2 separate regions of the Homo sapiens genome follow, and region 2 is linked to region 1. Evidence: fine-mapped expression QTL. A gene starts in region 1. The other region holds a variant in brackets. All regions are shown on one strand. Distances are between the middles of the regions. Region 1 holds the start of TAC3 (tachykinin precursor 3). Region 2 has its middle 8.7 kb from the start of SDR9C7.

Region 1 (15,320 bases):
AGCCAGTTAACGGTGAAGATATCTGCTCCTCTCTTTCTTGGCCTCGGTAGTAACTTCCCTGTCCACATCCCATCCTAGCTGGATCAAGTTCTGTTTGCTTGTCCACAGCCCTGCTAAACTGTAAACTCTGTGTATGAGTCATCATTTCATCCCCAGGATCTGTCACAGAACCCAGGCTCAGCATTTGGAGACAAAAAAATTGTATAGGGTCATAGATTTGTCCTCCTCTGTGGCTGGGTCTCCGGACAGCCTTGATCCCCACCTCCTTCTCTAATTAAGTAGGGTCAGATTCAGGAATGAATATCTCCCAGACCCATCCTAGTAATACAAGTCATTCTGAATATTTTTTTTCTTTTTCTTTTTCTTTTTTTATTGTTTTTTTTGTTTGTTTGTTTTGTTTTGAGACGGAGTTTTTTGCTCTTGTTGCCCAGGCTGGAGTGCAGTGGCGTGATCTCGGCTCACTGCAACCCCTGCCTCCTGGGTTCAAACGATTCTCCTGCCTCAGCCTCCCAAGTAGCTGGAATTACAGGCATGCGCCACCATGCCTGGCTAATTTTTGTATTTTTAGTAGAGAAGGGGTTTCACCATGTTGGTCAGGCTGGTCTCGACCTCCTGACCTCGTGATCCACCCGCCTCGGCCTCCCAAAGTGCTGGGATTACAGGCGTGAGCCACCGGGCCCGGCCTGTTTTTTCTTTATCTAAAACTGGTCTGTAAAAATCTTTGTGTGTTAGAAACCATCTTCCAAATTCGTGTATTTATTTTAATCACTAAATAAATCTGATACTCATCGTGCAAAGCACTGTGTAAGGCACTGTTCAGGAAATAGATATATACAAAAAGATATGTAAAGTTATTTACATTTAAATATGAAGTGTGTGTATCATAAGTATGTGTGTATTTACCATGTAGCTGGAGGAGTCAAGGAACAGAAAAACCCACCAACCAAACAAGTAAACACACACACCACATCATTCATATGCAAAAATCCTTTATTGTTGAGGAATAGAGAGAGACATTATATTTTTAATGTAGGACACTACAGGAACTCTAGGGTATTCTACAGTCAATGCCCATTGGGGTTGGGGATATTCACTATGCAGTTTCCACACCAGGGTCAGGTAGAAAAGATGGAGAAGGAGTCAAAGCACAAGAATGTTACAAGAACAGGGAAGAGAAAGGGTAACAGGAGCGTGCGCACCTGGGGATTGGGACAGGGAAAGAGGTCTTCCTAATGCAGTCCAGGAGTCCGGAAGTGGAGTACTGAGGACAAAAAACAAAACAAAACAAAAAAAAACACTGAAATCACATCTTATATCCTGTAAAAAAGTCCCACTGAAAACCTGCTGTGGCAGCAGGAGAGAAGGGGAGAGGCGTCTGTGAGAGAGGAAAGAACAAGTCTTGACCCTCAGCCTGCCCTCCAGGCTTTGGGCCTGAGGATGGAACTCTCCTAGCCGCAGGTACTTGCACCTTCCCAGCTGCCATATTTACATTACTCTACACACCTGTGTGCATGGCCAGTGGGGCCCATGTGGACCAAAGATGTAGGAACCAAGTTCATGCCATCCTAGCACCACCATGAGCCAGACACACACACAGCCCTGCCCAAGGTGCCCTACTATGAATGCTCCCCCTGCCTTATCCAGTTCCTCCTCTTCCCAGAAACCTCCCAGAGGAAGCACAGGCCCAGGGATTACTTACAGTTTCACATGAATGAAATCAGATGACACAATGATCTGTGTTGATCCATCTCATCTAATCTTTAAATGCCAGCTCCCAGAAACCTTATGTCCTATTCTGCCTGACACCTAACAGGTTGGGAATGCTCCCTCAATGGTAAGATTATGAAAGCTGCAATTATGGGTCCCTCTGAAAGAGCCTGGATGCACAAACAAGCATTAAAAGTAGATTTCCACAATGCACTTGTTTTTGCCATTTGTATAAAATACTATAGCAAAATTGCACTGTAATTATCTTTATGGCCAGTGCATAACGCTGGAGCAGAGTATGTCATCCAGATATAGCTGCTCGTATAATTATCTGGCCGTCGGCAGGACTGAAATAACCATCTAATGAGAGCAAAATGATACAGTAACTACCATGTAATCAGCAAGTTACAGTTATTATAGCTCTTTGTGCCCTCTCACCCAACACTAAATGGGGGGCCAGACTCAGTCTCTGGTCCCAGGAATTCATGCACAGGCAGCATCATCAAGCACCAGCTCCTTGGGTCTTGGGCGTGCCACCTTGAGACCAGTGAGTATGGGTAACAGGGACACAGAGAGAAAAGCAGGAGGCTCTCCATGATTACGAGCCTTCCCAATCTCTCTCCCTCTCCTTTTCACTCCCTCCACCCCAATTCTTTGGAAGCTAGTGAAAAGAAAGCCATTGGTGGAGCTGCTCTTGCTGTGTGTGGGAAGACAGTGTCAAGGCGGAAGGTTCGTGTTTTGACTAGACACTTCCCTGGGGGACTCTTACACTCGCATACCAAGTGAGGAATTTGTCAGCCCACTCAGGCCTGGGGTCCAGACAGAGCCAGTCAGGGGAAACATTAGGACATCCCCCATACCTCCCAAACTGGGACAATTATCATAAAATTGGCACACAGCACTGTGCACCCGGCACTGTTCTGAACACTTTACCTATACTCAATCCTCAAAACCACAACCCTGTGAGATACTATTATCACTTTCATTTTTCAGATGAGGAAACTGAAGCACAGGAGGATATGTACCTTGGCCAAAAAGATACAGATAGAGTGGCAGATCCAGGATTCACATTCAGGCCATTGTTCTTATTCATTATGCTAAAGAGAGATTCAGATATGGTTTCCTGCTAATCCCCATTAGATTTCAGAGTTCCTTGCATTTCTTCCTGAATCATCCTTGTGTATGACTACCTTCTGGGCCCCGTAACCCAGGATTCTGAGTGATTTGAAAGGCTCAGCCTGCCTGGGAGGCAAATGCTTGCCTGTGAATTGGTTGTGGTATTTGTAATTATCAGATAATAATTTCTCCATCTTTTTGCATAGATTACAAAAGAATGAAGTCCAAACAACAGAAATTGCCCATCGGGGAAGCCCCTCTCTCCTCATCTCCCAACACTCACTCCTGCTCAATAGTCAGCTGCCGTCCATGATCCAGAGGAAAGAGATGAAAGACGGGGGATGTGTACAAACACACGTGCCTCTAAGTGTCTTTGTGTTTGGCCGACAGTGTGCTGGGCATTGGCAGTGTATTTCAGGGCAAATCTATGAGCTTTAATACCTGTAGCATGGGAGGAAATGCACAGCTGGCAACCCCCACAGCCCCCTCCCCAGTCCCCTCTCCCCTCTCTAATGAACAATCCTTACCCTATTCTGCTCTCGGGGGATACTTGAGGATGCCAAAGCTGGGGACGTTCTCTTGATTCACATCCGTAGGAGAGTCTAGGGTAAAGCGAACAGTGTAAGTAAGAGGGATCTTTCTGAATGTGAACTACACCCTGATCCAACAGCAAAGGGCTGGCTATGACGGGCAGTGTTCAAAGACAGAGTTGGGAGACTGGGGTGGAAGCAGAGTCTCCCTATCCTTCCTCCCAGCTGCAACAGGACTACCTTATAAAGGTCTCTGCTCCTCTGTTCCCAGGGAAGACTTTCCTGTGGATCCAAGCTGATTGGGATGAAGGGGCCGAGGAACCCTCACTGAAGGTAAGAAAGGTCCTGTCTTTCCCTCTGGTGACAAATATGAGGCACGTGACTTCTGTCATACTCTGCCAGTACCCTAAGCCCTTCCACTGTACCTCCACACACTCCTACCTGGCTGGACGCTCCTCTTGCCCATAAGTCCCACAAAGAAGTCATGCATGTCACCTGCAGAAAAGGGCCAACATTGTCAGCAGTGATGATGAGAAAGTGAAGCATCTCCCCAGACATGGGTCAACACTTCTGAGACTGGGTTTCTGGTCTCTGTTCCTTTTTCTTGTCAAAGCATGACTCCTCACAGTTAGCAAGTGCCTCCCCTAAACCCACTCTCTCTGCTCACCTTTCCTTCCTCCACATTTCAAGAATTTTCTGCTCTAGCAGGTGCCTGATTTGGAATTTTCAGGGCCACGAAGAGATCCCCTTGTTTTCCAAGGACCAGCCAGCAGAGGGAGAGCCCACCATGCCCCTCACACCAGCTTCCTCCTAGTTCTGGATGGCCTCTCCCTTTCAGGAAAGGTTGGCTGAGCAGTGGGAGCTGGCATATTGTTTGTACCAGGTGAGAAGGGGCTGGACAAAATGGCCCCTGGGCCCAATGCCCCACAGAGCTCTGGGCAAGTGGCAAGAGATAGGGAGGGAGAAGAGGGTACTTACGTTTCTCGGGAGATGTTGATTCCTTAGGATCTGTGAAACCAAGAACAGATGTCTAAATGGGGAGTGAAGTTGGAAAGTGATGAGAGCGGGGTTCAGATCACAACCCTCACCGATTCACTAAGCTATCCCCCATCTCTCTCCCATCTGAAAGGATCTCCCAGGCCTCTTATCTTCAGAATCCTGCCCCTCATTCCCCTCTCCCCTAGGGCCGCCTCCTACCTGTGCTAGCCTGGCTCAGGGCTTTGAGCAATCCCTCCAGAGATGAGTGGCTTTTGAAGAGTCTCTGGAGCAGCTGGTAGAGATCTGGATCCCTCTAGGGAAGAAACAAAGAGGGGTGAGGCAGGAGGCTCCCACCCGGATCCACTCATCCTTTTCCCACAAGAAACAGCCTCTTCCTGAGCCCATCCTGAATCCGACACCCTATTTCTTTCAGAGTTTCCTCTGGTTCACACTGGACGAGAAGTAGGTGCTCCAGGAGTGACCTGTGGACCAACAGCAACACCAGCACTACACAGAGCCTGTTAGAAATGCAGACTCTTGTTCCTACCCCAGACCTCCTGAGACAGAATCTGCATTTTAAGCAGCCCCCCAGGTGATTCACATGCATGGTGAGATTGGAGGCACACATCTGCACCTGTGATTCCCCCACTCTGCACGATGTCCATGGATGTTTCTCTCCCTGTTTTCCACCACCTCTTTCTCTATTCTCCATGGCTTTCCGCCTCTAGTTTTCTCTCCCTCTCCCTTTTGGCCCTAGGTCTAGAATTCCAGGAAGGCAACATGCTCAGAAGGCACGTCTTCTTCTCTCCACAACTGAATCCCAAGTTCTAGAGCTGTTGCCCAGCACGGGCTCTTGATTGTCCCTGTGATTTTTTTTTTTTTTTTAGCAACTTGCGTACAGCAGGGTGGTGGGCACACACCACACAGCCAGTTAATTGCAGCTGCAGAGAGACAATAACAATGATCATGGCTGGAGATTTTCATCTCAAATCTCAAGTCTCAGCAGCGCCTCTCTTTCCAGAACCCAGGCATCCTTCGGCTGTTGTGCACACACAGAAGTGCATTTACACAGAACACACCCCCACACATACCAACCCAGTTGCCTAGGCACACCTATGTACTACCCTCTTCCTGCCCCAATTTCCCTCATCCTCACAGACTCTCAAGGAGAAGGGGTAGGATGGCAATCCCTCTCATTCATTGACCAAGAGGGGCAGAGGGGACATCTCATTGGCCAAGGTCTTGAAACAAGTTTGTCTCAGAAGAACTCAGATACTCTAACTATCCTGGGCTGGAACTTTGTGGCTCCAAACGGTGTCCAGCCCATACTTGGCACTCCCCTGGGTGTTTTTTTTTTTAACGGTTCTGGCCTTTTGGATATGGCACAACTGCTGCCACCTGCAAGGCTGCCCTGGTGATAACTCCCTTGGCCCAGCATGTGGTGTTCAGGCAGCCACTTTTCCCAAATTGTTGAATACTCTGCCCACCTCCTATAATGAGATGCTGAACAGATTTGAGCTGAAGAGGCAGTTAAACTTCACACATTGAATTTGTAATAAGTCCCACCCGCAATCATCTTAAAAGCATTTGTACCGATGTAATTGCTGTCATTTCAAAACCTTGAAAAGACTTCCTCCCTATCCTCCCCCTGTACCCCTACCCTGACAATTCCTATTCTTTTTCGTAAAGGAACTGTGGAAATCGAGGCTCAATCTGGTTTTTTTGCTGTTGTTGTTTTCCTATCCTGACTAAGCAGAGGATAGAGGCGGGCAAGGGAGAAAAGAGAAGAAGGAAGGGGTTGGGATCTTAGAAGCACCTGAGGTTACTGGGGGTGGATGAGCAAAAGATAAGGGAATTTATTTGCATTTTGAAAATAAAACAATACACATAACTGATAGGTAAAATAGCACACAAATAACCATTTGGGAAAGAAATTCTGACTGTTTCATACCATCCAGGAAATAGAAGAGATCTGTCCCTTGCAAAGGGACCTGAGGTAGACTATAGAGAGCCTTAGACCACCCTAGCTCACCCCTCACAGTACCATCCAATCACCAAGTCTCCCATCAATCAACCCACCAAACAACATATTTGTAGGGCACCTTTTATGTACAAGGTGTCAAAGACATGCAGAGATACAGAGACACAAACACACCTGGAGACAGTGGGAACATGAAAGGACCAGAGAAACAAAGAAATCCAAAGGGAGGCAAAATGCCCTCTGACGGACAACCCCCCCACCCCAGTTTCCTCACTACAGCTGTCCAGACAGGCAGAGTCCCAAGTTCCCGTGATGTCCCCAGTACTCTGCCAGGGGAGACTTACCTTGCTGCGGCCCCCGCCAGGAACCACCTCCTCCTGTGGCTCCTTACAGACAGCCCCAAAGCTCTGAGCTAGGCTGAAGGCCAGGATGGCTGTGAATAGCAGCATGATCCTCATGGTGCCTGGGAGAGCAAAGGGACAGGACTCAGGTAAAGGAGAGAAGAGGAAGATACAGCATGGGTGAAGACACAAGAGACATTCATTACCAGCAGCTTGGCTTGACCCTGCTTCCCCAGCCCCCAACTCCACTGTCCAAGCCCTGGTCTGGAGAGAGGGTGGAAAGTATTTCTGAGAAGGGGGTACAGCCCTTGGGCTTAGTTTCCCTGCTACCCCATCAGATATCTCCCCAGGAGATGTGCAATGCTATAGTGGTGCCAGGAGGACTCTAGCTCCCAAGAAAGATGATAGATTTGTAGGACATGGACTGGTCTGTTTCCTCAGTCAGCTGGAGGAGGGATCCTGGATGCTATTTTCCAGTACTAGATAATCCCAAGACTTAGGCAAAAACTTTCTGGTATGAAAGAATGAGTCTGTAGCCACAGGCTCCAAACACCAACCAGCTCTCGGCCCTACAGGTGCTTTGTGCTCACCTTCCCAGTCCCCTGCTCCCCTATCAGAGGCTGCCATCTGCTTTATTCCCTCCTGACGCTGGCTCCTGTCCCCTGGTGCCAGCTCTGGTCCATCCAGCATTCTCCCACTTGCCTACCTGTGGAGCAGCTCTGTGCCGGGGGCTGGGTGGTCTGGCAGGATCAAGGAACTGGCTAGGACCGCTGCCTGCTCCCCTCACACACTGGTGCTGCCGGTGCTCCTGCAAAGAGAGAAACCGAGTGGAGGGGATCTAGGAAGGCTGCAGTCACTCAGTCCCAGCTCCCTGATAAAGGCTCTGGGAGGGTCTAGGGGAGCTGAGGGGAGGGGCTGAGAGTCACCAATCCCAGGGTGGCTGGAGGGGAGGCGGGGAGGCTGTAGGGGGGAGGAGGATGCAGACAGTAGCCACACACCCAGACACACACATACCCCACAGACCCAGCAGTGAGACCATTTCCTAACAGCACCCGAGCTGGCTGCTGTGTATGGTTTGTGTACAGTTTGACACTGCTGGGGCTTAGAGGACAATACTCCAAAATGAAGGCCTCAATAGCCGCCTCAGAAGCAGAAGTTTTTCTCTGACCCTCTCTTGTCCTCTTGTCACTCGGTTCCATTCTCCCCCAAGACCAGCTATAAAAACCAGAACCCCTTTGCCCCAAAGCCAGCCATAAAACCTAAAATTACTCTATGTAAAAACTGGCCAAAAAAATTATCTGACCGGCCGAGTGCAGTGGCTCACGCTTGTAATCCCAGCACTTTGGGAGGCCGAGGCGGGCGGATCACGAGGTCAAGAGATCGAGACCATCCTGGCCAACATGGTGAAACGCTGTCTCTACTAAAAATACAAAAATTAGCTGGTCATGGTGGCGCGTGCCTGTAATCCTAGCTACTCGGGAGGCTGAGCCGAGATTGCACCACTGCACTCCAGCCTGGTGGCAGAGCAAGACTCCATCTAAAAAAAAAAAAAAATTCAGAAAAGATGACACTCACCCCTTTTTTGGGGTCTCCTACTTTCGTTGTGGAGTTTCACGAGTCATGGGCAGATTCTTCTCAGGTCTAAAGCTCTGCTCTCTTCTACACTACATTACCTAATCTCTTTGGTTTTTGAGGATGCCAAAAATAAATTACTTTGTATTATTTAAAAAACTAGACATATAGCTAGTCATATATAATAACTAGATAAAAAATACAGTTTTAGAGATGACTTATGACAGTTATTCACAACAAAGTATTACTACTATACAGGGCTACTTATTTCTTCGTGCATTTAAATTTTTAAAAACATGGTCTGGGGCACCTAAAGACAATGAAAGCACTCACCATTGAGGATGAAACTCCCATTAAAAATAGGCTAAGCACGCCAGGCATGGTGGCTCACGCCTGTAATCCCAGCACTTTGGGAGGCCGAGGCGGGCGGATCACTTGGGGTCAGAAGTTCGAGACCAGCCTGGCCAACATGTTGAAACCCCATCTCTACTAAAAATACAAAAAATTAGCTGAGCATAGTGGCTGGTGCCTGTAATCTCAGCTACTTGGGAGGCTGAGGCAGGAGAATCGCTTGAACCCACGAGACAGAGATTGCATTGAGCCGAGATCACGCCATTGCACTCCAGCCTGGGCAACAGAGCAAGACTCCACCTCAAAAAAAAAAAAAAAAAAAAGACTAAGCACAGAGTGGGCTAATCGGCACTGGGCTGCCTGCCAGCCTTGGGGGAGCATCTTTACAGTGGGGCACTCGATAAAAATGCCACACATCTCGTCCCATGACATTTCCCTCTTTTGGGGGGCCTAGGATTCAATATAAAAATGAGATCCTTGATTAGGGGGGTTCTGTATTCTGCCTTCCAGCTATGCCTGCTTTACCCATTTAAATATGAGGCCCTAAAACCTATGTTTTCTTCCCCCTTTTTATTAAAGGGCTCCACCCTAAAGGCAATAATCTAATTAAAAAACAAGCTAGTTAAAAAGCCCAAAATACAACTTCCTAAAAAAAAAAAAAAAAAAAAAAGGCCGGGCACAGTGGCTCACGCCTGTAATCCTAGCACTTTGGGAGGCCGAGGCAGGTGGATCACAAGGTCAGGAATTTGAGACCAGCCTGACCAACAAGGTGAAACCCTGTCTGTACTAAAAATACAAAAATTAGCTGGGCGTGGTGGCACACCCCTGTAATCCCAGCTACTCAGGAGGCTAAGGCAGGAGAATGGCTTGAACCCAGGGGGCGGAGGTTTCAGTGAGCCAAGGTCACGCCACTGCACTCCAGCCTGTTGACAGAGAGACTCCAGCTCAAAAAAAAAAAAAAAAAAAAAAAAAAAAATCTGACCTACGTTATTTGACTTAGGTCATAAAACCTCCATTCCAGAGAGGGTCCTGCCCCACACCAGAAGGAAGGAATGAGAGAGGCTAGGAGGAATCTCAACAGACAGGCCTTGCTGGGTTTCCCCACTCAGTCTGTTAACATTAGATCGTGCCCTTTCTGTCCAGTCATATTTCTACACAGCTGTCCATACTTTGTTAAACCTAAACATAAAAATAGACAATTTCCCCTATAGCTTCAAGGCTTCATTCTAAAGGCTCCCATTCGTATTTAATAAATTTGTATGCCTTTTTCCCTATTAATCTGCTTCATGTCAGTGATTTTCACTGAAACTTTAGGGGGCCAAGACCACAGTTTGGCATCACAAATAAGACCACCAAAGCTATTGTGCTTTTCTGGAAGCCACAGAGAAGGAAATACAGGAACCTGGCAAGCCAGCAGAGGAGTGAGAATTTCCTGCCAGACTCCCAGTTTTCCAGTTTTCCTCTCTCTGTGGACTCTGGATGAGTGGACAGTAAAAATCATTGTTTCCCTTTTCCTTTCCAAATGTAAGATTAATGAGAGAACAGGTTTTGTGTGTGACTAACCTTGGTATAGTGAGTCTGATATATTTTTTAGTACTTTGTGGTATAAGTATTCATAGTTTGACCCCATTCCCTTCAGAAATAGCTTTTGTTGTTGTTGTTGCCATTTTCCTTTCAGAAATAGCTTTTTTGTTGTTGCCGTTTTCCTTCGTTTTTGTCTTGTCTTTTGGTGTTCTGTCATAAGGAGGGGTACCCTAGGGTAGAACAGGCCTGCAACCCACTGTTTGAACTGGCCCTGCAAACTGGTCAGTTTCGTGGTTCTGGTTATGCTGACTTCTGTTATGACAAACTTTGCTGCCAGTCCCTGAAATAAAAACAGGGTGAGAGGTTTCCCTCTTGTCTCATGTCCTTGAGAGCATGACGTGACTAGATGGGGATATTCCCGCTTGGTCTCCACCATCCAAAGGATGTGATTTTTCAGGTAACATCACAGCCAGTATGAAAAGATTGGGAGCCCAACACATGTATTTTCAAACATTCCAAGCTCCTAGGGGAGTTTTGTCTTACAAGGTCTCATCCCTCCTGGGCTTCTGTTTTCTTTGACATAAAGAAAACTTTGGATTAAGTTGCTATTGGAATTAAATACCCCATTAAAAATTCTAATTGTCAATGGCCAAAAGATAAATCCTTTAGACTAAAATTCCTAAATTTAAAAAAATTACTTGTTCTAAAGAATTGATAGATCAAATTAAAAGGACACATAATAGTGTCACAGCTATCCTTAACAATTGTCTTGATTAAATTAAAGCACAAAAACCTGACCTAAAACAATTACACTCAAACTGCCACTTTGGATTCCATACAAAATTAACAATGGAGGCTGCTCCATTTTACAGTTTAATAATTAAAATTCCCACCGTGGCTTAGGGTTTCCTTCCTAATCAGAAATCAGTCCTTTTCGGCTTAATATTTATGTGACTTTTAAAATATCAGCATTTGTCCCAACTAAAATCTGGTAACAAGAGATTTAAGGTGAGTCGCAGTGGCTCACACCTGTAATCCTATCACTTGGGAGGCCGAGACAGGCAGATCACTTTAGCCCAGAAGTTGCCCGGACTTGAGACCAGCCTGGGTAACAGGGCGAAACCCCATCTCTACAAAAAGTTTTAAAGGAGGAGAGAGACAAATTTAAAAGAATTTTTGTTAAAGAGCTCCATGGTTAGAAGTCAGCTTAATTAAAAGCTAATATTCAAGCTATGTGTATATTTTTAAAGCCTTCTGTGTTTTCTCTTTAAATCCTATTTTAAAAAATTTTGTTCAGTAGACTAAAATCTTTTTTTTAAAATGTGTTTGATGTCTCTATTCACTTCCTTTCTTAAAAACTATCCTCCCATTTACTTTTACTCCACCCTATTCCTCCTTCCTCTTTGCCATCTTCAATACCACATTTTTAAAAAATCTAGAAAAGACTTCTAATGACTCAGACTCCTTAAAAAACTCAGAAAAGGCCAGGTGCAGTGGCTCATGCCTGTTATCCCAGCACTTTGGGAGGCCAAGGCGAGCGGATCACCTGAGGTTGGGAGTTCGAGATCAGCCTGGCCAGCATGGTGAAACTCGGTCTCTACTAAAAATACAAAAATTAGCTGGGCGTGGTGGCACACAGCTGTAATCCCCACTACTCAGGAGGTTGAGGTGGGAGAATCACTTGAAGCCGGGAGGCAGAGGTTGCAGTGAGCGGAGATCGTGCCACTGCACTCCAGCCTGGGCGACAGAGCGAGACTCTGGGTGACAGAGCAAGACTCCGTCTCAAAACAAAAACAACAACAAAAATTCCATTTGTAAAGGCATCTCCCTCTCTACACCCAAACCTCCAAAACCTTTTAGAATAGAAAAGACAATGGCTTAAAATTTAGATAACTTTACCTTTATTTAGATCTAAATTCTATGCCTTTGAAATATACATTTTCTACCTTATTTCATCTAAAAGTCATGTCTTAGAGATACAAGTTTAGAGTTGCCTAGTTAATAATTAAGACATAAAACAGATAATTTAAAAATTGATAGTCTGAAGTTGGGGAAAACTACCTAGAAACTGACAAATAAAAAATCTGGTCTGGCGTAGTGCCTCATGCCTGTAATTCCAACACTTTGGGAGGTCAAGTTAGGAAAATTTCTTGAGCCCAGGAGTTCAAGACCAGCCTGGGCAAGATGGTAAAACTCCCCATATCTACAAAAAATACACGAATTAGCCAGGCATGGTGGCACGCGCCTGTAGTCCCAGCTAGCCAGTCAGGTAGAAGGATTGCTTGAGCCTTGGAGGTCAAGGCTGCAGTGAGCTGTGATGGCACCACTGCACTCCAGCCTAGATGACAGAAGGAGAACCTGTCTCATTAAAAAAAAAAAAAAAAAAAAAAGTATAAATCTATAAGCTCTACTTCTGTTTATGTGTCTATATATTTATATGTGCCTGTGTATGTAATGTTCCATTATCAAAATATATAAAAGAGCTCTAATTAATTCAGTTAAAAAAATGCTTAAATCAAATATTTTATTAAAAAATAAAAACTTTAACTCAAATGTCTGTTTAATTCACATTACTTTGTAAACCAAAAGTAAAATCCTAAAGCTCCCTAACCATCCGAATGGACCACTCCTCACAGCCAAGGGTGTTCTAAAATTAACCTGAAAACTAGGTCAGGCCATGATGGGAAGGGGGAACCAGACCCTCCTCCCTTCTGGAATTAATGATAGAACAGACGTAGTCTGATAAGAAACATACATTCATTTATTCATATATTTTTATTTATTTATTTTTTGAGACAAAAATGCCTCTTACTAAATAACTGATTACTCATATCATATAGAGGCCTGGCTTTGGTGGAAGCCCATCTGCAACACACTGCCTAAAATTAGACACAACTAATAACTATTTAACTAGACTGGCCTATTCTCAGGACTAAGAGACTAGTTCCATGGCTTATAAGACAATTCACCAACTCAATTTCTGGACTATAAAATTTCTTTAAAATTTTTCACACCGAGGAATGCTGGGGCTCAGAAGACAATACCCTAAAATGAAGGCCTCAGTAGCAGCCTCAGAAGCAGAAGTTTTTCTCTGACCCTCTCCTGTCCTCCTGTTGCTGGGTCCCATTCTCCCCCAAGGCCAGCTATAAAAACCAGGACCTCTTTTCCCCAAAGCCAGCCATAAAACCTAAAATTACTGTATGTAAAAACTGGCCATAAAAAATTATCTGACCTACCTTATTTAACTTAGGTCCTAAGATCTCCCCATTCCAGAGAGGGTCCTGCCCCATACCCAGAAGGAAGGAATGAGAGAGGCCAGGAGGAATCTCAACAGGCCTTCCTGGGTTTCCCCACTCAGTCTGTTAACATTAGAGCATGCCCTTCTGTCCAGTCATATTTCTACACAGCTGTCCATACTTTGTAAAACATAAACATAAAATTGGCGATTTCAGGCTGGGGGCGGTGGCTCATGCCTATAATCCCAGCACTCTGGGAGGCCAAGGCGGGCGGATCACAAGGTCAGGAGTTCCAGACCAGCCTGGCCAGCATGGTGAAACCCTGTCTCTACTAAAAAATACAAAAAATTAGCCGGGCATGGTGGTGCGTGCCTGTAGTCACAGCTGCTCAGGAGGATGAGGCAGGAGAATTGCTTGAACCCAGCAGGCGGAGGTTGCAGTGAGCCGAGATCATGCCACTGCACTCTAGCCTGGCAGACACAGTGAGACTCCATCTCCAAAAAAAATAAATAAATAACTGGCAATTTCCCCTATATCTTTGGGTCTTCATTCTAAAGGTGCTCATATATACATATTAAATAAATTTATCTACCTTTTCTCCTATAAATCAATTACTCTCATGTCAGTGATTTTCAGCAAACTTTTAGGAGGCCAAGTGTCTTGGCCCTCACAACACCAATTCCCATGCCTGAGTCCAGCTCAGTAGATGTGGACCCTGGGCCTCTTTCCCCACCTTGTTCATCCACCAGCTCCTTGCCCTTTAACCTTCAGGCCTGACTTCTGGGCTAAAACAGTTTCAGGCAGGCGCCCCTCCCCACCCAGGACAACCAGACTCAGGCCCCTGAAGGTTAGAAGGTCAGTTTAGCATCCCCTCCAGTCCTCTCCTTTCCCCCTCCCAGAGGGAGCTGCGCCATTACATTGGTCCTCAAGAGTGTCACACCCCTCCTCTGCTTGGGCAAAGAAAGCTCCAGTGTCGGCCTTCCTCCACTCCTCACCAGTGGTCATGATGCCTCTCCCACCTCAATCCTTCTTGAACCCTGAATCAGCTGGACTTAGCTTCATTCTTCTAGAGTTCTTTTACACCTCCTGATGTAATCTCACAGAGGATGAACAGAACTCGATAGCTGTGCCACCCCTGCCCCCTCCCCGGCCTTGATTTTTTTTTTTTTTTTTTTTTTTGGAGACAGAGTCTCACACTGTTGCCCAGGTTGGAGTGCAATGGTTCAATCTCGGCTCACCGCAACCTCTGCCTCCCGGGTTCATGCAATTCTTCTGCCTCAGCCTCCCAAGTAGCTGGGATTACAGGTGCACACCACCATACCTGGCTAATTTTTTTGTATTTTTAGTAGAGACGGGGTTTCACTATGTTGGCCAGACTGGTCTCGAACTCCTGACCTCATGGTCTGCCCGCCTCAGCCTCCCAAAGTGTTGGGATTACAGGCATGAGCCACTGCCCCTGGCCTTGATCTCTTAATTGCTTCCCTTTTTCCTCAGAGTTACATTTTCCCCACTCTAATCTGTCTCCCTGCAGTTCAGGCATCTTCTTCTCTGACCTTTCAAGCCTCTTGTTCACACCACACACAGATGAGGGAGATTATCTGCTTATTTCTCACCCAAGGGAGAGAGCTCCAGGGGAGAGTCAGAACCAGGATCAGAGCCGAGAGCCAGAGCCAGATGCTGCTGCTGAATGAGACAGCGGAGATGCAAAAGCAAAGCCAGAGCCATCCGTCAGCCCAGTATTTGTAATGGGTGCAGGGTTTGAATGTTTGCAGGGTGCTTTGGCATGGAGCAGTCCATCTGGTTTTCATCACCATGACCATGTAAGTAGGAAATATTCTGATTTTCCAGATGAGAAAACAGGCTCAGAAGGTTCAGTCACTTGCTCCAGTACATATGGCTACTAATCAGTGAAGAACAGCCTCAAATCCAGGTTTGTCTCACCCCAGGTCTCCCACTCTTTTTACTGCACTGGCATAAACTTTGA
Region 2 (15,320 bases), 74 kb before region 1:
CACAGAAATGGGACCACAAAGTTCTCTAGTGTGAAGGGACAAAGGATGTATCTCTGTGATCCACCATTTGCCAAGTCTGACCAGCGTGGAATCACATAAAGCAGGTGTCACCCTGGGAAAGCCCCGCAGGGTTTGGCCGTTCCTTAACAAAGTAGGGGAGGGGGCCAGATTATGAACCCACCCCCAAAGAGCAGACCTAAAGCTTATAGGGGATGGAGGTGGGAAATGGTAGAAAGCAAACCACACCTACTTCATAACCAACCTGAGGCAGAGCACCTCCTATGCGGGATCTGGGAACAATCTCCCAGTCTCTGTCTGCCTCCTGGGTGAATGAACAGAGAAGTCTTGGCTGAAACAGGTCAGACCATGTCACTCAAGACTGAGCAGGTCCGGGGCATTGGGTATCCCAGTCCTTGAGGACACAGGTGAGGTCCAGGAGTTGGGTCTGACTTAGCATAAGGATAACTCAGAACTGCCCCAGCACAGGCCTGGGCCTGACTCAGCACCTCCTGGGCCTCTATGCTGGCAGTGTTCCCCTGGCCTCAAACTAAACACACAGTCCATGAGGGTGGGGGGTGTGAGGGAGGTAGGACCACATAGAAGGCTCTTCTTCCCAGGGCTAGAAATGCCTCCCTCTCTCAGATGACAGCATTCCTTGCCAAGCTGGCCCCTAAGGTCTGATAGGTCAGGTTGGTAGCTGCACTCCCCATCCCCACCCCATGCACACAGGTATCTCAGAGGAGAGGAGCCCTCTCCTCTGCCAGGCCATTTCCCTCCAGTGGGAGAGCATAGACTGCTGAGGTCCAAGACACACCCTGATGAGGTAGACAGGAGGAAGAGCAGGTGTGGGCTCACCCACCCCCAGTTGCTCAAGACCTTCCACAAGTGTGGATTCTTCAGGTTGACAGGTGGGCCATGAAGCTCAGAGCCCAAGGAAGTGGGATGCCATTATCTGTGATTGGGTCTCCCTTCCTAAGCAGCAAAATGTGGTTCTTTCCTCCTAATATCACCAGAGTCCTGAATAACGTCCCAGAAAAAAACTAGAACAGAGGTGAGGGAAGTGAGGTACATGACCCTGAACTTGAGAGCTCCCTCCCACCACTCTATTTCTCACCCCATGAAACAGCACCCCTCCCAAGTGCAATGATGTTAAAGTGAGGGCCGGTCACTGAGTGCTACAAAGAGGTCGCTACAAAGTGCTACAAAGAGGCCTGCCAGTGCCTTTGTGACATGTCATTGCTTCCTTGTCCCTCTGTGCACTCCTGTGACCCCAGGCTACTTGATTCACTCCTGGAAAGGAAACAATTGCCCCTCACCTTGGTGGCAGAAAGGGCTGAGACAGGGCAGGGATAATCCAACTTCTCTCTTCAATTTCCTCCTGAGTTCATCCCTCTTATCCCCAGATCCCCATGAAGGCACCTGCCTCCTCCTCCCTCTTGTTCACAGCCCATGCTCCCCTCAGACTAGAAGGCAACTTGCTGCACATGGCTGCACTTTTTAGCTTTTGCTCTAGAACTAAAGTAACCAGATGGTTTTTTGAGGGTCATGGTTTCAAGAGGGTCAAACATTGGTTCCTGTGTCCTCTGTCCGAATCCCTATTGAGAACACCACTGCCAGCCAATGGTTTTAAGAGGGTCAAACATTGGTTCCTGTGTCCTCTGTCAGAATCCCTATCGAGAACACCACTGCCAGCCAATGCCCCCAGAGCTGGCACCTGAGGTCTAGGGGTCAGGCTGATGGCTGCCCTGTCGCCCCACACCTTATCCACAGGTATATTCAGAGGAGCCCCCATCCACTTCCTCCAGGCCATTTCCATCATGGAGAGAGTGTAATAGACTGGCCAGGTTGATGCACACCTGGGGAAGAAGCAGGAGGCAGAGAAGGTGTGGGCTGTGGATCCTTCCCCTCCTCACACGCTCCCATTGTGTAGACTCCTCAGAATTGGCCAAGAGACTCAAAGGCAACAGGACACCTATGAGCGTTACTGGGTCCCAATCTTTAGAAGAACACCTTGGTTCTTTCCTCCTATGTTGCCAGTCCTGAGTGATATCTCAGTGGAATTCTGTGGAGGGCATGAGGAAGAAGCTGGGATAGGCATCCAAATGGCAAGAGTGCTCCCTCCCACCACACCATTACTCTCCCCAAGACACATCACCTCACCCAGATCACCCAGCTCCACCCAACCATGCACCCCAGTCTTGGATTCACAGGGGCTTAGCCAGCCTTGGAGAGCCCCAGTTGAGCGTGACGTCCATAGGAAGGTAGGCATGTCGCTCATGGGGAGGTAGAGAAGATTGGTGTCTCAGCCAGCTGAGTAGTGAGCGCTCCATGCAGTGGGTCAACAAGGATAGATTCGTACTGCATTTTGCCCAAAGCCTTCTAGATGCTTTTCTGATGCATGTTAAGGATGAGGAAAGATCCTTAAAGTACTAGCACATCCCTTCCCTCCCATTTAGAGCTCTGAATTAGGAGGACAGTGTCTAAGAATTCCAGGCCCCCCAAATGATATGCCTCAAGTCTAATCCATCCATATTCCCCAGAGAGTGCCCCAACCTTCACCCAAGGAACATCCGTTTCACTCTAAGCCCCCTCTGCCTCTCTTTTTGAGATATCTGGACTCATAAATGGAAGGTCTCTACTAACAGCCTAAGAATATGAAAATCAGCTATCTCTAAACCCAGCTGCCCATGAGCCCACTGGTAGCCACTGTCTCTGACTTTAGTTTCCTCTTCAAAATAATGAGGGATTCAGATGAGGCAGTGGTCCCAATTATAGAAAGCTTGGATGCTTCCTTTAGGTGAACAGTTGACCACATGGCACCCTGGGAATGGGGATAAATGTCCTCACTTTTTTGGGGAGGCAGAGTTTGGAGGACAGATTCTCATACTGTTGGAGGCACTAATGATGGACCCAGACTTCTAGACAAGGATTTCTTTATCTCCCCACTGTCCACAGCTCACTCACGGGATATCAGAAACTTCTCCCCATACGTCTCCTTGACCTCGGGGCTGGCCTAGTCCGACAGCTCCTTGAGGTTCTGTAAATGCCTCTCAGAGCCGGCCATACTGGTCCTGAAGTGACCAGGTTCAATCACAGACACCTTCACTCCAAAGTGGGAGAGCTCCCTCCTGCATGGCAGACATGCAGAAGGGCAAGGACTTAAGAAATTTTGGGAGGCAAAATACAAAAAACAAAGAAACCCAATACAAACCCAGCATGCAACGACAGTGGGAGATGCAAGAAAGCTTGGAGAGTTGGGAAGGGCAGCAGATAGCAGATAAAAGTTATGATGGTGGCCTTGCCTCTCTCTGGGGTTTCCATATTTTACATACCAAAGCTTACTAGCCCTAAGTCCTACCAATTCAAGAGCAAGGCAGCATCTCAGTGCTATCACCTCCTATGCCCCTCACATCCAATGGATCACCAGAATTCCCACATTCTACCTCCTCTGCAGTCCTCAGTCCCCTCCCTTCTTCTCCTGCCCCAGGAATCTCCCTGGCCTCTGAGCTGGGTGATGGCAGCTGTCCTCTAAGGAGCGTCCCTCTGCCTTCAGTCTGGCTCCCCACACTCACAGCCACTGGGCTCCCTGCAGTAAGTGGGTGTCTAGAAGCCGATTAGACCAAAGAGCTCCCCTGAGCAAATCCCTTCTTTGGGGGTTCCACTGCCAACAGCATGAGGCACAGCTCCTGTCCAGGGCCTCCACGAGCCCATATGAACCCACCTGCCCAGCCTCCTCCACAGGCCTGGCCCTGTGCTTCACCTCATGAGGACCCCACAGCACAGGCAGGCAGCTGAGGCTCCCCCTAGGTCTGGGCTGAAGACAAAAGTCATTCCCCCATTTCTGTTCAAGGCTGCCAGGTGGGGATCCTCAATCTCCAGCTCAGATCCCACTGCCAGGACCCTCCCCAGCTTAGGAGGCTGCCATGGCCACCAGGGCTGACTGGGTCACAACCCCTATGAGAACTGGCAACAATGGTTCTGGCTCTCTTGCTCCTCTCTCAGGTGTCAGAGCTTTTAGGTCAGGGCCAAAACCCTGTTGTTGTCCTAGGCTGAGTTTATTGGGTACTCTTCCAAGGGCCACAAGAGTATATTGTATGGACTCAGATGCTCTCCCCATGCCTCCAGGACCCAACAAATATCTCTCCAAGGGAGAGAGACAGAGACAGGAAAACAGGAAGACAGGAATGGGGTAAGACAGAGAAACCAAGGGGAAAGGACAGAAGAGAAAGGAAAATGGAAGGAAAGAATAAGAAAAACACATAAATAATTGCTTTCTGCATCCTGGTTAAGAGAGATACACTTAAATCCTAAGACTGGGGGAAGTTAGAGAGCAGGCCTGCACTGGGCATCAGGGGACAAGCTGTGCTACAACCTGCATCAATGTCAAGGCAATATCTGTCCTGGAAGAAAAGGTCACCTTGTGTACCTGGGAGTCCCAAAGCTCACTGTGGACTGAATGGCCAGAGCAGGAGGGGAGGAAGGAAAGAGGTCTCATGCCACACAGGTGTCCAGACTGCACTCTCTGCCCCAGGAAGTACCACCTTTTCCTCCCACCATCTCATAAGGCCACCTCTGCCCTATCCCCATAGGGTCCAGCAAGCTTTGGGGAAGACTCTACAGAAGACATAGGGGAGCAAACTAATAGCATGAAAGATCTGGAGCAGTCAGAGCTACAGAACTACGGACTCCAGGCCAGCAGGGGCAGGGGTGTGAGTGGGTGAGGGCTGGGGGGTACAGGAGACGGAGACTGACCCTAGGAATATTGGAAAAACAATAAGGCCTGCAATGGTGGCCCTTCCCCTACTCAGAAACCTTTCCTGGACTTGAAGGAATGAGGATTCTTTGATTCAATAGTTGTACTTTTCTTGAATAGCACTGCTAAGCCTGTCAACAAACCTTGGTAGAGAATCGCTACTGAGATGTTATTTATGCCAGGAAAAGTGGGTAACAAACTTCGGCATTCAACAATATAGAATCCCTTTAACAAATTATGGCCTCTCCACATGCTGGAATATGGAGACCTTGATTGTTATGTTGGGGAAGAAACTTGATGATGAAAATGCTGACCCCAGAATGTGTAAAGTAGAGGGAAATTAACCCTGGAGGCTGGGATTAGGGGGAATGTTGTTTCACTCTCATCCTCTTCTATGATTTCTCCAATGAGAAATCCTATCTTATCCTCCTATCTATCCAATCTTATCCTCTTCTATAATTTCTTCATGTTTTCCATTTACAATCAGAACAAAGCAATCAATGATCTCCCTTTCCCCAAAAGGAACAGGATTCATCACTCGGTGTTTGATGTGAAGTCCCTTCAGCTCTCCAAGCCCCAGTGTCCTCGTGAATCAAGCGGAGATCATCTTAAAGCCCTCAACAGGGACAAGTGTGAAGGAACCAGTAAGAGAATGCTGAGATCAGAAGCCTGGATCCTGCCCAGCCCCATCCCCGATGGTCTCATGCCAACCGTCAGGACCCAACGTTATCCAGAGACTGGGCTCTAACCACAGCCTGGACTCCTCTAACCCTGGGCCCAGCCACAACCACTCTAGGACTTCTGCTTTGGAAAGCAGAAAGCTCAAGCCCCCGAAAATAAAAGTCCTGGAAATGTTCCCAGTTAGCAGACACTAGGTCTCCCCTAGTGACACAGAGAGAAGAGAAACAAACAGGCACTAGGAGGGATTGAGGTGGTCCCTCTGTCCCCCACACACTCCTTCACCCACTGGGCAGCTGCAGCAATGCTCTCTGTCTTGGTGATGTCCATGGTCACCGTCTCCAGCCTGTCTGAAGTCTGGCCCCTCAGCTGCTTGGTCCCCTTCTCTGTCCTACATGCAGCTCCCGCAAGCCTGTGCATTCAGTTGTCTGGCCAGTAGCTTCCTGAAGCGTGAGTCACAGCTCATGATGAACACTATGTGTCTCTCAGCTGGCTCACCACCTGCCTCTCCCAGTATGAGCACAGAAGGTAGTACAGGCCCTGGAGGACCACCAGGTAGAGCCACATGGCTTTGCAGAGGACAGACCCAGGTAGGCTGGGGTGAAATGAGAGTCTGGCCTCTGTTCAGACAGGAGGATTTAAGAACACAGAGGGCTGAGGTAGGCAGAGAAGCCCTCAGGCATTTTGGCAGAAAGTCTTCACTTTCCTCCCTGATCACTGTCTTTCTGCAACATTTTTTTTTATCCTGGCTTCATCTCTCTACTATTTTGAACTGCCTTTGCAAGTACTCATGCATGCAGTTGCAAACCCCAAGTCCTGCCCAGTAGGAAACTACTATGACTCAGCAATGCTTCCCTAGTCCACAAATTTCTCTCTGCATTGCTGTGCCCACACAGATGTTTATGTGGGTGCAAACGTGTATTGACACAGGCTTACACACAGCAGCCCCCACACACTCTCCATAGCAAACACACCCCTCTGCTCTAAGTACAAGGGTCAGAACTGTCTCTACAAAGCTGCTGTACTGACACTTCTGGTCCATGACCTTCTGAGCACAGAAAGACCTTATTGGGAAGCTACATATGGTTTCCAGCCACATTAGGTGGAAATCCCTCTCTGAGCCTGAGATTCCTCATCCCGCTCAGCACCCAGAATCAATCACTCCTCAGAAAACTGGGTCATGGTCAGGCTGTCTAGGATGAGAAGGAGAAGCCGAAAGAGTGGACAGGAACAGATCGTCTCCTGCTATAATAGTTTTTTGGGGCAGAAGGAGTGAAGGATCCCATGGGGGCACTGTGGAAGTCCTTCCATTCCCCCTCCCAGCAGCCCTGGGTGTTTCCTTCCTGTGGGTTCCAAGTCTCCATTCCTTTCCCTGCCACTGGAGGAGGGGGTGTGTTGGGATATGGTGGAGGACCTGAGAGATGGCACAGGAAAAGTGCAATGACTTTTAAGTGAGGGTCAGTCACTGAGGGCCACAGAAGGCACAGGTGAGGGGGAGAGGACTCAGTTGTCCCAGGGAAGGGACCTGGGGCCTGTCAGTGCCTATTGACATCTCCTTGCTGGCTCGTCCTTAGGTCTATTTCTGTGACCTGAGGTTACTCCAGCATCCATGGAAAGAAAACAATTCCTCCTCATCTCGGTGGCAAGAATGGCTGGGAGAAGGCAGGGATAACTTTCCTCTTCAAATCCATTCTCAGGTCATGCCTCTCATCCCTGGCCTCCAGGAAGGCACCTGCCTCTTCCTGCCACTGCTCTCTAAGGCCACCCAAAATGTGGAAGCTACTTTGGAACTGGGTAACAGGCAAAGGTTGGAACAGTTTGGAGGGCTCAGAAGAAGACAGGAAAATGTGGGAAAATTTGGAACTTTCTAGAGACTTGTTGAATGGCTTTGACCAAAATGCTGATAATGACATTGACAATGAAATCCAGGCTGAGGTTCTCTCAGATGGAGATGAGGAACTTGTTGGGAACTGGAGCAAAGGTGATTCATTACATTTTAGCAGAGAGACTGGCAGTATTTTGCCCCTGCCCTAGAGATCTGTGGAACTCTGAACTTGAGAGAGATGATTTAGGGTATCTGGCAGAAGAAATTTCTAAGCAGCAAAGCATTCAAGAGGTGATTTGGGTGCTGTTAAGGCATTCAGTTTTAAAAGAGAAAAAGATCATAAAAGTTCACAAAATTTGCAGCCTGACAATGCAATAGAAAAGAAAATCTCATTTTCTGAGGAGAAATCCAAGCTGGCTACAGAAATTTGCCTAAGGAAGAAGAAGCCAAATGTTAATCCCCAAGACAATGGGGAAAATGTCTCCAGGGCATGTCAGAGGTCTTCACGGAAGCCTCTCCCATCATAGGCCAGGAGGCCTAGGAGGAAAAAGTGGTCTCATGGGCCAGGCCCAGGGTCCCCGTGCTGTATGCAGCCTAGGGACTTGGTGCCCTGTATCCCAGCTGCTGCAGCCACAGCTGAAAGGGGCCAATGTAGAGCTCAGGCTGTGGCTTCAGAGGGTGCAAGCCTCAAGCCTTGGCAGCTTCCACATGGTGTTGAGCCTGCCAGTGCACAGAAGTCAAGAATTGGGGTTTGGGTACCTTTGCCTAGATTTCACAGCATGTATGCAAATGCCTGGATGTCCAGGCAGAAGTTTGCTGCAGGGGCAGGTCTCTCATGGAGAACCTCTGCTAGGACAGTGTGGAAGGGAAATGTGGGGTGCTGGGGCACTGCTTAGCAGAGCTGTGAGAAGAGGGCCACCATCCTCCAGACCCCAGAATGGTAGATCCACTGAGAGCTTGCAGTGTGCACCTGGAAAAGCCAGACAATCAACACCAGCCTAGATTACTTTTCTATGTCTGTAAAAAATGTCGTTGGTATTTTGATAATGATTTCATTGAATCTGTACATTGTTTTGGGTAGTATGGCCATTTTAATAATATTGTGTTGATTCTTCCAATCCATGAACATGGCTATTTTTCCAGTTTTTGGTGTCCTCTTCAATGTTTCTCCTCAGTGTTTTATAGTTTTCATTATAGAGATCTTTCACTT[CTTT/C]GATTAAGTTAATTCATACGTATTCAGTTTTATTTGTGGCTATTGTAAATGGGATTACTTTTTAAATTTCTTTTTCATGTTGTTCGTTGTTGGCATATAGAAATGCTACTGATTTTTTATGCTGATTTTGCATCTTACAACTTTACTGAATTTGTTTATAAGTTCTTATAGTTTCCTTGTGGAGTCTTTAGGGTTTTCCAAATATACGATGATATCGTCTACAAACAAAAATAATTTGCCTTCTTCCTTTTTAATTTGGATGCCCTTTATATCTTATTCTTGTCTAATTGCTTTAGCTAGGACTTCCAGTACAATGTTGAATAATAGTAGTGATGGTGGCCATCCTTGTCATGTTCCAGATCTTAGAAGAAAGGCTTTCAGTTTTTCCCCATTCAGTATGATACTAGCTGTTGGCCTGTTGTATATGGCTTTTATTATCTTGAGATTAGTGTGTTCCTTCTATCCCCAGTTTTTTGAGGGTTTTTATCATGACTAGATGTTGAATTGTATCAAATGCTTTTCAATATTGATTGAAATGATCATGTGGCTTTTATGCTTCATTCTGTTGATATGATATATTATATTGATTGATTTGGTATGTTGAATTATCCTTTCATGCAAGGGATAAATCCTATTCATCATGATGAACTATCTTTCTAATGTATTGTTGAATTTGGTTTGCTAGTATTTTGTTGAGAATTTTTGCATCAAAATTTATAAGAGATATTGGCCCATAGTCTTTTTCTGATGTGACTTTGTCTGGTTTTGGTATCAGTGTAATGCTGGCCACATAGAATGAGTTTGAAAGTATTCCCTCCTCATCTATTTTTTGGAATAGTTTGAGTATGATTGGTGTTAGTTATTCTTGAAATGTTTGGTAGAATTCAGCAGTGAGGCCATCAGGTCCCAGGCTTTTCTTTACTGGCAGACATTTTATTGCAGCTTCAATCTCATTACTTGTTATTGGTTTTAAATAATAAGGTTTTAAATTGCTTTCTGGCTCAATCTCAGTAGGTTGTATGCATCTAGGCATTTGTCTATTTATTCTAGATTTTCCAATTTATTTGCATATAATTGCTCCTAGTAGCCACTAGTGATCCTTTGAATTTCTGCAGTACCAGTTGTAATGTCTCCTTTTCCATTTCTGACTTTATTTATTTGGATCTTCTTCTATTTTTTTTGTATTTTTGCTTAGTCTGATTAAAGATTTGTCAATTTTGTTTAACTTTAAAATTGCAACTTTTTGTTTCATTGATCTTATGTTAAGTTTTTTTTTATTTCAATTTCATTTGTTTCTGCTCTGATCTTTATTATTTCTTTTCTTCGACTAATTTTGAGTTTGGTTTGCTCTTGCTTTTCTAGTTCTTTAAGATACATTGTTAGATTATTCATTTGAAGTTTTCCTTTTTTTTTCTTGATGTAGGCACTTATAGCGATAAATTTCCCTCTTAGTTCTGCTTTTGTTGTATCACATAGGTTTTGGTATGCTGGGTTTCTATTATCATTTGTTTTTAGAAATTTTTCAATTTTCTTCTTAATTTCTTCATTGACCCACACTGGTCTCTCAGGAGCATATTTTAAAATTTCTATGTATTTGTGTAGTTTCCAAAATTATTATTCTTATTTCCAGTTTCATTCTATTGTGGTCAGAGAAGATGTTTGATATTATTTCATTTTTTTCAATGTTTTAAGACTTCTTTTGTGATCTAACATGGGGTCTATCTTTGAGAATGATCCATGTGCTGAGGAAAAGAATGTGTATTCTGCAGCCATTGGAAGAGATGTTCTGTAAATATCTATTGGATCCATTTGGTCTACAGTGCAGATTCATTCTGATGTTTCCCTGTTGATTCTTCTGTCTGGAAGATCTGTCCAATGCTGAAAGTGGAGTGTTGGAGTCTCCAGCTATTATTGCATTGGGACCTATTTCTCTCTTTAACTCTAATAGTATTCCCTTTATCTATCTGGGTGCTTCTGTGTTGGGTGCATATATTACATATTTAAAATTATTCTTTTATCCTCTTGCTGAATTGACCCCTTTACCATTATATAGTGACCTTCTTTGAAATCTATTTTATCTGAGATAAAACTCCTGCTCTTTTTGGTTTCCATTGGCAAGAAATATCTTTTTCCATCCCTTTATTTTCAGTCTATGTTTGTCTTCATAGGTGAAGTGTTTCTTCTGCAGGCAACAGATCAATGGGTCTTGGTTTTTCATCCATTCAGCCAGTCTATGTCTTTTGATTGGTCAGTCTAGGATACTTACATTCAATGTTATTATTGATGGGTAAGGACTTACTCCTACCATTTTGTTATTTGTTTTCTGGTTGTTTTATGAACTTCCTTTCCTTCTTTCTTTCCTTCTTGTTTTTTTCTAGTGAAGATGTTCTTCTCTGGAGATATGATTTAGTTTCTTGCTTTTTATTTTTTGTGCATCCATCGTATGTTTTTTGGCTTGAGATTACCATGAGGCTTGCAAATACTATCTTATAACCCATTATTTTAACCTGATAACAACTTAACATTATTTGCATAAACAAACAAGCTCAAAGAAAATTAATAAAAACTCTACACCTTAACTTTGTTCCCCAACTTTTTAACTTTTTGTTGTTTCTGTTTATAGCTTATTGTACTGACTATGTCTTGAAAAGTTGTTTCAGTTACTTTTTTTGATTAGTTCATCATTTAATCTTTCTACTTAGCATAAGAGTAGTTTACACACCACAGTTACAATGTCATAATATTCTGTGTTTTTCTGGGTACTTGCTACTACCGGTGAGGTTTGTACCTTCAGGTACTATGTATTGCTCATTAATGTCCTTTTCTTTCTTACTAAAGTACTCCCTTTAGCACTTCTTGTACAATGGTACAAGCTTTTGTTTGTCCAGGAATGTCTTTCTTTCTCCTTTACGCTTGAAGGACATTTTCACCACATATACTATTATACTATTATAGGCTAAAAGATTTTTTCTTTAGCACTTTAAATATATTATGCCACTCTCTCCTGGCCTGTAAGGTTTCCACTGAAAATCTGGTGCCAGATGTGTTGGAGCTCCATTGTATGTTATTCATTTCTTTCCTCTTGCTGCTTTTAGGGTCCTTTCTCTACCCTTGGCCTTTGGGAGTTTGATTACTATCTTTGGGTTAAATCTGCTTGGTGTTCTATTACCTTCCTGTACTTCCATACTGATATCTTTCTCTAGGTTTGGGAAGTCCTCTGTTATTATCCCTTTGAATAAACTTTCTACCCCATATTCTCTTTCTCTACCTCCTCATTAAGGCCCATAACTCTTAGAATCGCCCTTTTAAGTCTGTTTTCTAGATCCTGAAGGCATGCTTCATTGCTTTTTATTATTTTTTCTTTTATCTCCTCTATGTGTTTTCAACTGGCCTGTCTTCAGGTTCACTAATTCTTTCTTCTGCTTTATCAATTCTGCTGTTAAGGGACTCTGATGCATTCTTGAATATGCCAATTGCATTTTTCAGCTCCAGAATTTCTGTATGATTCTTTTTAATTATTTCAAACTCTTTGTTAAAATTTTCTGATAGAATTCTAAATTTCTTCTCTATATTACCTTGAATTTCCTTGAGTTTCCTCAACACAGCTATTTTAAATTTTCTGTTTGAAAGGCCCCATATCTGTTTCTCCAGGATTGGTCCCTGGTCCCTTATTTAGTTCATTTGGCATGGCCGTGTTTTCCTGCATGGTTTTGATGCTAGTAGATGTTCTTTGGTATCTGGGCATTGAAGAGTTATGTATTTATTGTAGTCTTCACTGTCTGGGCTTATTTGTAGTCATCCTTCTTGTAAGACTTACCAAATATTTGGAAAGACTTCAGTGTTGTGATCTAATCCGTATCTGCTCTAGGGGGCACCCCACACCCAGTAATTCTATGGTTCTTGCAGAACCTCGTAGATGTACCACCCTGATGTTTGGGACAAGATCTGAGAGAATTCTCTGGATTATCAGGCAGAGACTCTTGTTCTCTTCCCTTACTTTCTCCCATACATACAGAGTAACTCTGTGTGTGTTTGTTCTGAGATAGCTAAAGCTGGGGGTGGAGTGACACAAGCACCCCTGTGTCACCACCACTATGACTGCATTGGGTCAGACGTGAAGCCACCACAGTGCTGGGTCTCACTCAAGGCCTGTTGTAAGGCCCTGGCTACTGCCTATGTTTGCTCAAGCCCAAGGGCTCTACAATCAGCAGATAACAAAGCTAGTTAGGCCTGTGTCCTTCTGTCAGAGCAGTGATGTCCCCCAGTCTCCGTGTGGTTCCAGAAGTGCTGTGCAGGAATCAAGGACTAGAGTCAAAAACCTTAGAAATGTACCTGGTGTCCTGTTGGATTGCAGCTGAGCTGGCACTCACTCCACACAACAAATCCTTCCTGCTTTTCTCTTCCTTGTCCAAAGACAGAGGAGCCTGACCTCATAGTCACCACCACCCCAAGCCACATGGAGTACCGCTAGACTCCCATCAATATTCCCTTAAAGCCCAAGATCTCTTAAGTCAGCTTGTGGTGAATGCTGCCTGGCCTGGGACACACCATTCATGTCAGTGGGCTCCCCATTGGCCCAGGGTGGGTCCAGAAAGTGCCATCCAAGAGTCAAGTCCTGGAATCACAAACCACAATAGTCTGCTTGGTGCTCCACTCCACTGTGGCCATGCTGGCACCTAAGGTGCAAGACAAAGTCTCCTTTACTTTTCCTTCCACTTTTCTCAAACAGAAGGTGTCTCTCTCCATAGCCACCACAGCTGGGAATGTCCTGAGTCTCACCTGAAGCCAGCAAGTCTCAGAGGCTCACCCAAGGTCCTCAGTGTAGTAACTGCCCATCAGTGCTGGTTATTTGGGGCCCAAGGTCTCCTCAGATAGAAGGTGATGAATGCTGCCAGCACTGGGTCCTTTCTTTGAAAGCACTGGGTTGCCTTCTGGCCCAGGGTCTGTCTAGAAATGTCATATGGGAGCTAGGGATTGAAATGAGGGCCTCCTGACTCTGATCATTGCCCTATCTTGCTGTGGCTGAGCTGGTATCCAAGATGCATGATAAAATCCTCCCCACTCTTCTTCTCTCTCCTCTCCTCAAGTGGAAGAAAGGGGTCTCCTTTGGAACATCAAGCTGTGCAGCCTGGGGTTAGGGGAGGGGTGATACAAACATTCCCCTTTGCTGCCCCAGCTTGCGTCTCAATATGTCATGTGTCCCCCTAATCCAGTGCCTCTGGGCCTAGTTCTGCACTACCCCTAGCCTATGAGGGGCAGTCCTTATGGCCTAGACTGCCTTTCAAGTTTACTTGGAGACACAGAGCATTGTAGCCCTTGGTGGCGAGGTTTGCGGGCACTCAAGTTAGGTTTGCTGTGATCAGAGACTCCCCTGTGGCACTAGGCCTCACCTATGAGTTGCAGTTCTTATGGCCTAGACTGCCATGTAAGTTTATTTGGAGACATGGAGCATTGTAGCCCTTGGTATCGAGGTTTGTGGGCACTCAGGACTGCTGGGATCGGTGATTCCCCTGTAGCTAGGGCTGGTTTAAATGCTCCCTCCATGGATGGGCATCAGCTGACTTTGGTCTGGTTTTTCTTCCTGCTCTAACAGGATAGCACTGAGTTCAGTGCCTCACAATTGCTGTGTTCTCCCTCCCGCAGCACCCAGAGATGCTCTCAGCACTGTGCCTCCACTGCCAGGGTTTGGAGAGCGGTAGGGTCTGTGATTCACGACTGTTTTTTTCTATCTCTTCAGTGCCTCTTTCAGCAATATGAGGTTAAAACCAGGTTAAAGAGTTATCATCACCTGATTATTGGTTCTTATGAAGGTGTTTTTTGATACGGAGACAATTGTTAACTTGGTGTCTTGGTGTGGGGTGGGGAAGAGAGAATGATCCGTGAAGCCTTCTACTCTGCCATTTATCTCCACCTGCTCCTCACTGTGTGTGTTTCATTTGCTTGTTTGTTTTATTTTGTTTTTTTTTTTTTGAGATGGGGGTCTCACTCTATCACCCAGGTTGGAGTGCAGTTGCACAATCTCAGCTCACTGCAACCTTCGTCTCCCAGGCTCAAGTGATCCACTTACCTCAGCCTCCCAAGTAGCTGTAACACAGGCATACACCAACACACCCAGCTAATTTTTTGTATTTTTAATAGAGACCGGGTTTCACCATATTGCCCAGGCTGGTCCCTAACTCCTGAGCTCAGGTAATCAACCCACCTCAGCCTACCAAAGTGCTAGGATTACGGGCATGAGTCACCATGCCTCATTGCGTGTTTTAAATTCAGTGGCCCTGCAACATCTGACCTCAATCTCTGTTTCTACAATAAATACTGATTTGTTAAACAACATGGGGCTTCCTAAAGGCTCCATATCCTAGACCTAGACTTTTATCCTGAAGAAAGAAAAATGAGAATCCTGGGGAGTTACCTCCCAACTACAATTTGTGTTGAGTCCAGGATTCTACACCCCTTTCCCCTAATGCTTTCTGTGTTGAGTCCACACTTGCGACATCATCAGAAAACTGAAGACATTGAGGATGAGGACCAGGTCATTCAAGGGAATTTCTCTCCAGTACACAGCAGGGGCTCAACAAAGGGAGAGAAAATATGAAAGATGAGTCCAGCAGTGACTCTCACTCCCTGTCACTGGAGGGGTGGGTGTGTTGGGATATGGTGGGGGACCTGAGGGATGACACAGGGAAAGTGCAATGACTTTAAAGTGAGGGTCCGTCACTAAGGGACACAGAGAGGGCACGGGTGAGGGGAGGAGGCTTCAGTTGCCCCAGGGAAGGGATCTGAGGCCTGCCTGTCAATATGGCTGTTGAGGTCGCCTTGCTGTCTTGTCCTTGGGTCTATTTCTGTGACCA

What was found.
Region 2: its variant is fine-mapped to the expression of TAC3 in whole blood (INTERVAL, PIP 0.92).

What each region holds. Positions count from the first base shown.
Region 1 is chr12:57,009,028-57,024,347 of GRCh38, forward strand. It overlaps TAC3 (tachykinin precursor 3), which reads right to left and starts at 7,502. Exons shown (of 7, transcript NM_013251.4): 1 at 7,360-7,502; 2 at 6,657-6,775; 3 at 4,551-4,644; 4 at 4,332-4,361; 5 at 3,795-3,848; 6 at 3,351-3,425; 7 at 973-1,261. The coding sequence starts at 6,770. The coding sequence ends at 3,352.
Region 2 is chr12:56,935,485-56,950,804 of GRCh38, forward strand. It overlaps the pseudogene LOC100420982. Among named protein-coding and RNA genes, the nearest start is that of SDR9C7, 8.7 kb to the left of the region's middle. The variant CTTT/C (reference allele first, on the strand shown) is at 8,467.